Linked DNA regions of Homo sapiens. The protein of the gene in region 1 purifies or fractionates together with the protein of each later gene. This does not show direct contact. Each region holds a gene or a part of one and is shown on either strand. Other genes may lie near its edges.

The links.
Region 2: the proteins of NAT8L (region 1) and FAT3 purify together in Homo sapiens (affinity purification with mass spectrometry, with the first as the bait; one large-scale study listed by BioGRID). This does not show direct contact.

What each region holds. Positions count from the first base shown.
Region 1 is NC_000004.12:2,061,401-2,066,531, forward strand, and holds part of NAT8L (N-acetylaspartate synthetase), read left to right. Parts: intron 1-2,359; coding exon 2,360-2,727; 3' UTR 2,728-5,131. UniProt on the Homo sapiens protein: Catalyzes the synthesis of N-acetylaspartate acid (NAA) from L-aspartate and acetyl-CoA. Promotes dopamine uptake by regulating TNF-alpha expression. Attenuates methamphetamine-induced inhibition of dopamine uptake.
Region 2 is NC_000011.10:92,797,257-92,802,387, forward strand, and holds part of FAT3 (protocadherin Fat 3 isoform 1 precursor), read left to right. Parts: intron 1-579; coding exon 580-4,653; intron 4,654-5,131.

The DNA of each region.
Region 1 (5,131 bases):
GTTCCCTGCTGTGGATGCGTCTCCCTGGCGCCTGCTGCGGTGGGGCAAGGGCCGCTGGGCTCTGTGGGTCCCATCTGGTGTGCCTTGCGGGGATGGGGTTGCCTGCAGTGCCAGGGTCCTGGGGGGAGAGGGCTTGTGTGGCAGGGGCCGGGGACCCTATTGGGGCACAGAGGATGGGGTGGGGGCAGGGGACCTGACCTTGAGCCTTGGCCTTCACTTCTGGCCTGATCGCTGGGCCGCTTAGCTGAAGGGTTTTGTCCCAGCCTCTGTGGCCTTCTATAGCTGGAGGAGCTGGGTCTGGGCTCTAGGGGGGGTGGGGGTTGTTCTCCACCCTCGGGCTGGCCCCCAGCCGCTGAGCCACACCGGTTCCCCCATGCCGGATGCCGCAGGGGTGAAGACTCTGCTCTCTGGGGTGGGAGGCTCTCTGCGATCCTGGAGCGTCTGTAGGCCAACGAGAGGGACAGAGTGTGGCCCAAAGGGTTGGGCAGGGTCTGTCAGGAGCCCGGTCAGTGTCAGGGGAGGGGCAGTGTCTGGCACCGCTGGCTGCCATGCTCCACCCCCGCGCCACGGCCTTGGTGCCTGCTGCTCTCCCTGACCCTTTCCTAAACCCAAACAGAGCATCTGAGCAGCCCCTGAGCCCTGGCCAGCCTCTGCTTGGGAGGGGAAACGGGCCATGAGGAAGCACAGGCCACAGCAACACAGGGGGCTCCGGTGGGCACACGGGGCATGGCCCTGCTCCCTCTGGGCCGTGGCCTCCCTGGTGTGAGGGAGTGGAGGGGTAGCTGGCAGGGCTGCAGGAACACCCCACGAGGGCAGAGGCTGGATAGCTGCTGATGGCCCGTGGTGGATTCTGGGAGCTGCTTGTGCACATGGGGAAACCGAGTCTTGGGAGGAGTGAGGTGTGCCCAGGGCCACATGGTGCTGGGGGTTGCTACTTCTGGGATGGCCCTGATCTCTCGTCTTGCCTGGGTAGGTAGAGGCAGAACCCCTGGGTGGTGGGCAGGCCAGCTGGTGGGAGGGATACTGGTCCAGGATCCCCTCCTTGGAGGTAGAGATGCTGTGTGGGTAGGGAGATGGGGGGTTGGGTGTGGGAGACCCCAGGGGCTCCAGGACAGGGGGCCGAGGAGGGGCAGCCCTCCTGGGAACCCTGGAGCTGCACAAAGCTTGGAGGGCCCAGCTGCTCGTGTCTGTGGCGATGGCAGCGGTGCCCAGTGGCTCCCCCCCACGCTGCTTCTCCTTGAAGGGCCTTCAGTACCCCTTTAGCTGCCTGCCAGGCCTCAGTGTCCAGCAGTGAAGGAGACAGAGGTCCCCTTCATGGAGCCAGCAGGCTGGTGGCTGTGCAGAGGGGCAATGGGGAGGGATGGGAGGGCTTCCCGGGGCTCGGGGCAGGTGCAGAGCCTCCTTGAGTAGGAGGCTGGATGGGCCACAGGCAGGCTGTGTGGCCCTCCACTGGCCAAACCCTTGGTCTTCAGAGAGGTCTCTGGGTGCCACCTCTGCCTTTGGCTGCTGGAGGTGGCTGGGCTTCCCCTGTGGCCAGTGCCTGCAGGTTCCCTCCCACAACCGCCCCAACCTGCCCCTGCACCTCTCCTCCTCCCCTGCCGGTTCCCCTCCCCCACGACCGCCACCTCCTGGCTTCGTGCCTGACTCGAGGTGAGAATTGGGCCGTGCTGTGGATGGGGTGATGGCCTGGCCACTTGGCCTACTGCCAGGAGAGGCCGGGGCCAGAGGGGCCATCCCCTGTCCCCCACTTGGATTTATAGGAAAGCTCCTCCTGGGCTGCAGGGAGCCTTCTGGACGCACTTTGCTGACCCCTGCCCTTTGCGGCCCTCTGCTGTGGGTGCTGGAGTTTGCCGTGATGGCCCGGGTGACCCTGGGTGGCCAGAAGCCACAGCAGTTTGGCTGCACCATGGCCTGTTCAGGGTGGCCCGGGCCATCAAGGCATTTGGTCTGGGAGTAGCTGGGCAGAGGGCAGCGGCCTGACTGGGCAAAGCCTGCCCCAGCTCTTGGTCTCAGAGGAGGGACTCGGGCCTTTGACCACTACTCTGAGCAGCGCAGCCTCCAGGCTTGAGTGGGTCCTGGCTGTTGGCCTGTTGGGTAACAGGTGTTGGGCTGGCTTTCTCTGCTTAAGGAGCTCTGGAGGGGGGCTCTACCTGCTTGTCCTGAATAGTGGCTGCCCCCTCCCTTGGCTCCAGCAGAGCTGGTAGCTAGGCCCCGGGGGCTGCCGGGATTGGGTGTCCCACTGCCCTGGCTTGGTGTCCAGCTGGAGGGGGCAGTGCCAAGGGCCCTGTCTCACCCCAGAGGTGGAGGGGTCTCCCCAGCCTTCCTCACCGGGTGTCCCTGACCGCCCTATCCCCTGCAGGCTCCTGCTTCTGGGTGGCCGTGCTGGATGGCAACGTGGTGGGCATTGTGGCTGCACGGGCCCACGAGGAGGACAACACGGTGGAGCTGCTGCGGATGTCTGTGGACTCACGTTTCCGAGGCAAGGGCATCGCCAAGGCGCTGGGCCGGAAGGTGCTGGAGTTCGCCGTGGTGCACAACTACTCCGCGGTGGTGCTGGGCACGACGGCCGTCAAGGTGGCCGCCCACAAGCTCTACGAGTCGCTGGGCTTCAGACACATGGGCGCCAGTGACCACTACGTGCTGCCGGGCATGACCCTCTCGCTGGCTGAGCGCCTCTTCTTCCAGGTCCGCTACCACCGCTACCGCCTGCAGCTGCGCGAGGAGTGACCGCCGCCGCTCGCCCGCCCGCCCCCCCGGCCGCCCTGTCCGCCTTTGCCCGCCTGCCCGCCGCCCGGCGCGGCCTGCTTTCAGACGCTCAATTGGCGTTTGTGTTGGGTTTCCCCTTTTCAACATCCTGCGGTTGTCTGGCTGGTTCCGGGGGGTGCGGGGCTGTTGTTCTTCGGCGACACTTTGGTGGGGGTGGGTTGTTTGTCGCCATAGCCCCTCGCCCTTCCCCACCTGCCTGGGCGGCTTGCCACCTGAAGAGTGGCATCTTGGACCACCGCGGCTGTCCATGACGCTGCCCTGCCCGCCGCCACTGGGGAAGGCCCAGCCTTGCTCACCAAGCACAGAACCTCTGCAGCAGATCCCGGGGCCAGGCTCCGGCCCCGCCTGCGGCCCCAGCGCCACTGCCTGTGGAGGCCCCAGCTGGCCACGGCGCTGCTTTGCTCCGCGCATGCCGAGGGTGTGGCCCGGCTGAGCATGCCGCATGCACACAGCCCCGCCCTGCCGCCCTGCCCAGACTGGACCCGGAGACCCGGGCTGGTGAGCGCCCCTGTCCCCAGCCCCCAGCTGGCTGTGGGAGGGCCTGCCCCTGCCCCCACCTCCTGGAGGGCCTGGTCTGCCCCGCGCCGCCCGGCTCTGTCCACACCTGCTTTGCTCTGACGCCCTCCATTTCTCTGGCTCCGGCCCCTCCCCTGCCTGGGCTGTGCTGACTGGTGTCATCACCCAGGTGACTCCCATGGCGTCCGTGGCACAGCCAGGGTGGGGGTCCATGGGACCCCTCTCCCCAGTGCCCACTGGATCGTGCTGGCCTCTCCCAGATGTCCCCGGGGACCTCCTGCCTCTGGCTGACGGTCCACCCTGTGAATCTTATCAGCCCAGGCTGCTGCCAACAGCGCCCAGCCCACAGCTTCTCCCAGCCTGAAACCAACACATTTTCTAATAAGTTATTTAGACAGAATAGCACTCTGCATGACTTTAATTCTTGGGACAAAACGGTAGTTTGTACCCTAAGACACAGTTTCTGGCCCAGTGTGATGGGGGTGGGTGGCCGGGTGGGTGGAGCGTTTTGCTGTTGGAAACCTGGAGGGAAACCCTGATTGGATGTCATTTCCTGCCATGGAGCACGCCTCCCAGCCCTGGCCTGCAGTGTGGGCAGGGTGGGGGGCAAGGGAGTCCGCAGCCTCCGGGAGGAGGGGCAGGGCGCTGCCTTGGGCTGGGTGGGAAGAGGGGTGGCCGCCTCGGCTTCCGCTGGCCATGCTCCTGGTCTCTCCTTCCTGAGGTCACAGGCAGGGGCTGCCCTGGACGGGGGGCGGGGGGGGTGGCCTGGAAGGGGAGACAGAGGTGGAGGGTGGCACAGGCTGCACATTCAGCTTAGAAGTGGACCTGGCTTTGGTGGCAGGAGAAGAATAAACACTTGCCCAGACCCCTTTGTGTGGGGGAATTGGGGAGGGGTCGTGGCAGGCAGGGTGGGCCACGGAACTGGGTCCCAGGCATCAAGGCCACGTGCAGGGCCATGGAGGGATGCTTCTCACGAGGCGCTTCAGAAGCGAGCGAAGGGACAGAGAAGCCCTGCGTCCAAGGGCCTTTTGTCCTGTTAGCAATTGAGGTGTGCAGAGCACTGTACAGACCCCACTCCCCTGTACATTCCTCCCTGGAGGTGCCCGGTCCCCGCTTGGGGATGGGAGTTTTGTAGACTGTACAGAAATCGGCACCCTATTTTCTTGCAGCTCAGATTTTGTTAATCTGGAATATACAGACAGACGTAAAGTGTTTTAGCAAAATGGAAACAAACAGTTGTGCCTTTTTCCTCTTTTGGTTTGGTTTGGGTTTGGCCTGGGGCTGGTCCCAGTTGGTGCGGGGCATGCTGGGGGCAGGAGGGGCAGGGCGGGCCAGGTGGAGTCAGGTCTTGGGGGTGTCATGTCGGGGTGCTGCCAGCGTCCCTTGGTCCTGTGCCTTTGGAGCCTCGGGCTCCTGGGGTGCAGGGTGCTTGGGGGTGGCTGTTGGAGCCCACCGACGCCAGGGCAGGGCCTGGAGGCCCAGGGACTGCCAGTGTCTCCTTGATATTGATCCTAGCAGATCCCCCTCCTGGGGGTTCTGAGAGTCCTGGGCAGTGTGGCCTTCTCTCATTCTGGTGGCATCTGCGCCCGTGAGTGACCTCTTCCTTGGCTGCACTGCCCTGTGGGTGGTGAGACGCTTGGCCTTTTTTGTTGCTGCCAGGACTTGGTAGAGATGGCAGGAAGGGTGTGCGGGGTGGTTGTGTGCAGAACCCTGCCGCCCCTGAGGTGAGCAGAGGCACTGGTGTGCCTGCCAGGCTGGGGCGGAGCTGCCCGGAACCCTTGCCAGGCCAATGTGTAGCTTGGTGGCGCCCTTGAAGGCCACTGGGGGGTAGGTGTGTCCTCCCCCGGGG
Region 2 (5,131 bases), on another chromosome or scaffold:
CACCAAAGTAGTGTTTTGGATAAAGTCATTTTTGATAGGGTGAAATAATACCAATTCCATGTAGCGAAGTTTGCTTTTGGGATAATCAGAAAACAACTGACTACTTTATAATGCTCTGAAACTATTCCCACAACCCTCTTTCTTTAAACCTAGAACAGAAAATATGACACTGCTACCTAAACCAGTGGCATTCATATGTGGGCTTCCCAATCTATCTGTCTTCTCACAAGGCTGGAAATAAGGAAGTCCTATACATTCTTAGCAGAAAGATCTCTCCTTCGGGCTCTCTTATTTCCCAACTTGAATGCACATAAGACTGTGTCATTGTCATTGTGTTTTTAACCTGGATCTAGAAGTTACTGATCTGAAATTTACTATAATACTGGGAAACTCATTTTGGTTCCTTTTCAGTACCCCTGAAAGAGAAGCCTCTCATTTTATTTCAGAATGACACAGATGAGTACTATAATTGCTTTCTACTTGCCACATTGCAGTAAGGTACCTATAGATAAAGAGTTAATCAAAAAGATTTCAGTGACCCACATGTAACTCATTTCACCATTGATTTCTGTATTTTAGGGAACACTGGGAACATGTTTAAGATCGAACCGGTCCTAGGCATCATCACCATTTGCAAAGAACCAGACATGACGACGATGGGTCAGTTTGTCCTATCCATCAAAGTCACAGATCAGGGATCCCCGCCAATGTCTGCTACTGCAATTGTGCGCATTTCCGTCACCATGTCTGACAATTCTCACCCCAAGTTCATTCACAAAGACTACCAAGCAGAAGTAAATGAAAATGTTGACATTGGAACATCAGTCATTCTAATCTCTGCCATCAGTCAATCTACCCTCATTTATGAAGTCAAAGATGGAGACATTAATGGGATCTTTACCATAAATCCATATTCTGGAGTCATCACCACTCAGAAGGCCCTGGATTATGAGCGCACATCCTCTTATCAACTCATCATTCAGGCCACCAATATGGCAGGAATGGCTTCCAATGCTACAGTCAATATTCAGATTGTTGATGAAAATGATAATGCCCCAGTTTTTCTCTTTTCTCAATACTCAGGCAGCCTAAGTGAGGCTGCCCCAATTAATAGCATTGTCAGGAGCTTGGATAACAGCCCACTGGTGATTCGAGCCACAGATGCTGACAGCAACCGGAATGCTCTGCTTGTGTATCAGATTGTGGAGTCAACAGCAAAAAAGTTTTTCACGGTGGACTCCAGTACAGGTGCAATCAGAACAATTGCCAACCTGGACCATGAAACCATTGCCCATTTCCATTTTCATGTGCATGTGAGAGACAGTGGTAGCCCCCAACTGACTGCAGAGAGTCCCGTTGAAGTCAACATTGAGGTGACAGATGTGAATGATAACCCACCTGTTTTTACTCAGGCTGTGTTTGAGACTATCTTACTTCTACCTACCTATGTTGGAGTGGAGGTTCTGAAAGTTAGTGCCACAGATCCTGACTCTGAGGTACCCCCTGAACTGACATACAGCCTAATGGAAGGCAGTTTGGATCATTTTTTAATTGACTCAAACAGTGGAGTACTTACCATAAAAAACAACAACCTCTCCAAGGATCACTACATGCTGATAGTTAAGGTGTCTGATGGAAAGTTCTACAGTACCTCCATGGTCACCATCATGGTTAAAGAAGCCATGGACAGCGGCCTCCACTTTACACAAAGCTTCTATTCCACCTCAATCTCAGAGAACAACACTAACATAACCAAAGTTGCTATTGTCAATGCAGTTGGAAATCGCCTTAATGAGCCCTTAAAATACAGCATCTTAAACCCAGGAAATAAGTTCAAGATAAAATCTACCTCAGGGGTCATTCAGACGACTGGAGTCCCCTTTGACCGTGAAGAACAAGAGTTATATGAGCTGGTGGTAGAAGCCAGCCGTGAGCTGGACCATCTGCGTGTGGCCAGAGTGGTGGTCAGGGTTAACATTGAAGACATAAATGACAATTCTCCAGTCTTTGTGGGCCTCCCATACTATGCTGCTGTTCAAGTGGATGCGGAACCCGGGACTCTGATTTATCAGGTGACAGCCATTGACAAAGATAAAGGTCCAAATGGAGAAGTGACCTATGTCCTGCAGGATGACTATGGCCACTTTGAAATTAACCCTAATTCAGGGAATGTTATTTTAAAGGAAGCATTCAACTCTGACTTGTCCAACATTGAGTATGGAGTCACCATCCTAGCCAAGGATGGCGGAAAACCTTCTTTGTCTACATCTGTGGAGCTTCCCATCACTATTGTCAACAAAGCAATGCCTGTGTTTGATAAGCCCTTTTATACAGCATCTGTCAATGAAGACATCAGAATGAACACACCCATCCTAAGCATCAATGCCACCAGTCCAGAAGGCCAAGGCATCATATATATCATTATCGATGGGGACCCTTTTAAACAGTTTAACATTGACTTTGACACTGGGGTCCTGAAAGTTGTTAGCCCTTTGGATTATGAAGTTACATCTGCTTACAAGCTGACAATAAGAGCCAGCGACGCCCTTACTGGTGCTAGGGCTGAAGTCACTGTTGACTTGCTAGTTAATGATGTAAATGACAACCCCCCTATTTTCGATCAGCCTACATACAATACAACACTATCAGAAGCATCTCTTATTGGGACACCTGTTTTACAAGTTGTCTCTATTGATGCAGACTCAGAAAACAATAAAATGGTACATTATCAGATTGTCCAGGATACCTACAATAGCACAGATTATTTTCACATAGATAGCTCAAGTGGCTTAATCCTGACAGCACGAATGCTGGACCATGAGTTAGTACAACACTGCACTTTGAAAGTCAGATCAATAGATAGTGGCTTCCCATCACTGAGCAGTGAGGTTCTCGTTCATATCTACATCTCTGATGTAAATGACAACCCTCCAGTTTTTAATCAGCTCATTTATGAGTCATATGTGAGTGAATTAGCCCCCCGGGGCCATTTTGTAACCTGTGTACAAGCCTCTGATGCAGACAGCTCTGATTTTGACCGGTTGGAATATAGCATTTTATCTGGGAATGACCGGACGAGCTTTCTGATGGACAGCAAGAGTGGAGTTATCACATTGTCCAACCATCGGAAGCAGCGGATGGAGCCTCTGTACAGTCTCAATGTGTCTGTCTCTGATGGGTTGTTCACCAGCACTGCACAGGTGCATATTAGGGTACTTGGGGCTAACTTGTACAGCCCTGCCTTTTCACAAAGCACATACGTAGCTGAGGTGAGAGAGAACGTGGCTGCAGGAACAAAGGTAATTCATGTTCGAGCCACAGATGGTGATCCAGGGACTTATGGGCAGATCAGCTATGCCATCATCAATGACTTTGCCAAGGATCGATTCCTCATAGACAGCAATGGGCAGGTCATCACCACAGAAAGGCTAGACCGGGAAAACCCTCTAGAAGGGGATGTTAGTATTTTTGTGAGGGCCCTTGATGGTGGAGGGAGAACAACTTTCTGCACTGTGAGAGTGATTGTTGTGGATGAAAATGACAATGCTCCCCAGTTCATGACAGTGGAATATAGAGCCAGTGTCAGGGCAGATGTTGGAAGGGGCCACTTGGTCACTCAAGTTCAAGCCATAGATCCCGATGATGGAGCAAATTCAAGGATTACTTATTCCCTCTATAGCGAGGCCTCTGTTTCAGTGGCCGACCTCCTGGAAATCGATCCTGACAATGGCTGGATGGTCACAAAGGGTAATTTTAACCAGCTGAAAAATACAGTGCTTTCGTTCTTTGTCAAAGCAGTAGATGGGGGCATCCCAGTAAAGCACTCCCTCATTCCTGTCTATATCCACGTCTTGCCCCCTGAAACGTTCTTGCCATCATTCACCCAGTCTCAGTATTCCTTTACCATTGCAGAAGATACAGCCATTGGGAGTACAGTGGACACCCTGAGGATTTTGCCCAGTCAGAATGTCTGGTTCAGCACAGTTAATGGGGAACGGCCAGAAAATAACAAAGGGGGCATATTCGTCATAGAACAGGAAACAGGCACTATTAAGCTTGACAAACGCCTTGACCGTGAAACCAGCCCAGCTTTCCACTTTAAAGTAGCAGCCACTATACCCCTGGACAAAGTAGACATTGTGTTTACTGTGGATGTAGATATCAAGGTATTGGATTTGAATGACAACAAGCCAGTCTTTGAAACTTCAAGCTATGACACCATTATAATGGAAGGGATGCCTGTTGGCACCAAACTCACACAAGTGAGAGCTATTGATATGGACTGGGGAGCCAATGGACAAGTCACTTACTCCCTCCACTCGGATTCCCAGCCCGAAAAGGTAATGGAAGCATTCAATATTGACAGCAACACGGGCTGGATCAGTACCTTGAAGGACCTAGATCACGAGACAGACCCCACATTCACCTTCTCTGTGGTGGCCTCTGACCTTGGAGAGGCATTCTCTCTTTCCTCCACGGCCTTGGTCTCTGTCAGAGTGACAGATATAAATGACAATGCACCAGTCTTCGCGCAGGAAGTGTACCGAGGGAATGTGAAGGAGAGCGACCCACCGGGCGAGGTGGTAGCCGTCCTCAGCACCTGGGACAGAGACACATCCGACGTTAATCGCCAAGTGAGCTACCATATTACAGGTGAGTAAATACCCCCAGTTTTCATTATGTGCACTGCTTTATAAAGAAAGATGGAAGATGGCGGGGAGAAGAGTAAGAGAGAAGGAAGATGGGATAAGGAGTCCAGTGTAATGAAGCCTCTCTGGAGCTGAGTAAAGGATCTCTGAGCAGACTGCGTTTTTTGCTTGTTGGCTGTTGCTAACTCAGCCTTAGTTTGGAGTTCACAGGTTTGCTGTAAATGTGTTAACCATATTGGTAACTAGTCTTTGTGTCACCTCTTCCTATTTAAAAAGGAGTCCAGCCAAATATCTCAGTTGAAGGAATGAAAATAACAACTTTTTGGTGGAGAGGTTCTGTTTTTAAGCATGTTCCTTTTTTCTACCTTTTGCAATGCTGAGCAAAACAAATAGCTTGATCACAGTAAGCTTCACATGCACACTTCCCCTGGCCATGGCAACACCTGTGCACACATGTACACACATTAGATGGAATGGTTTGA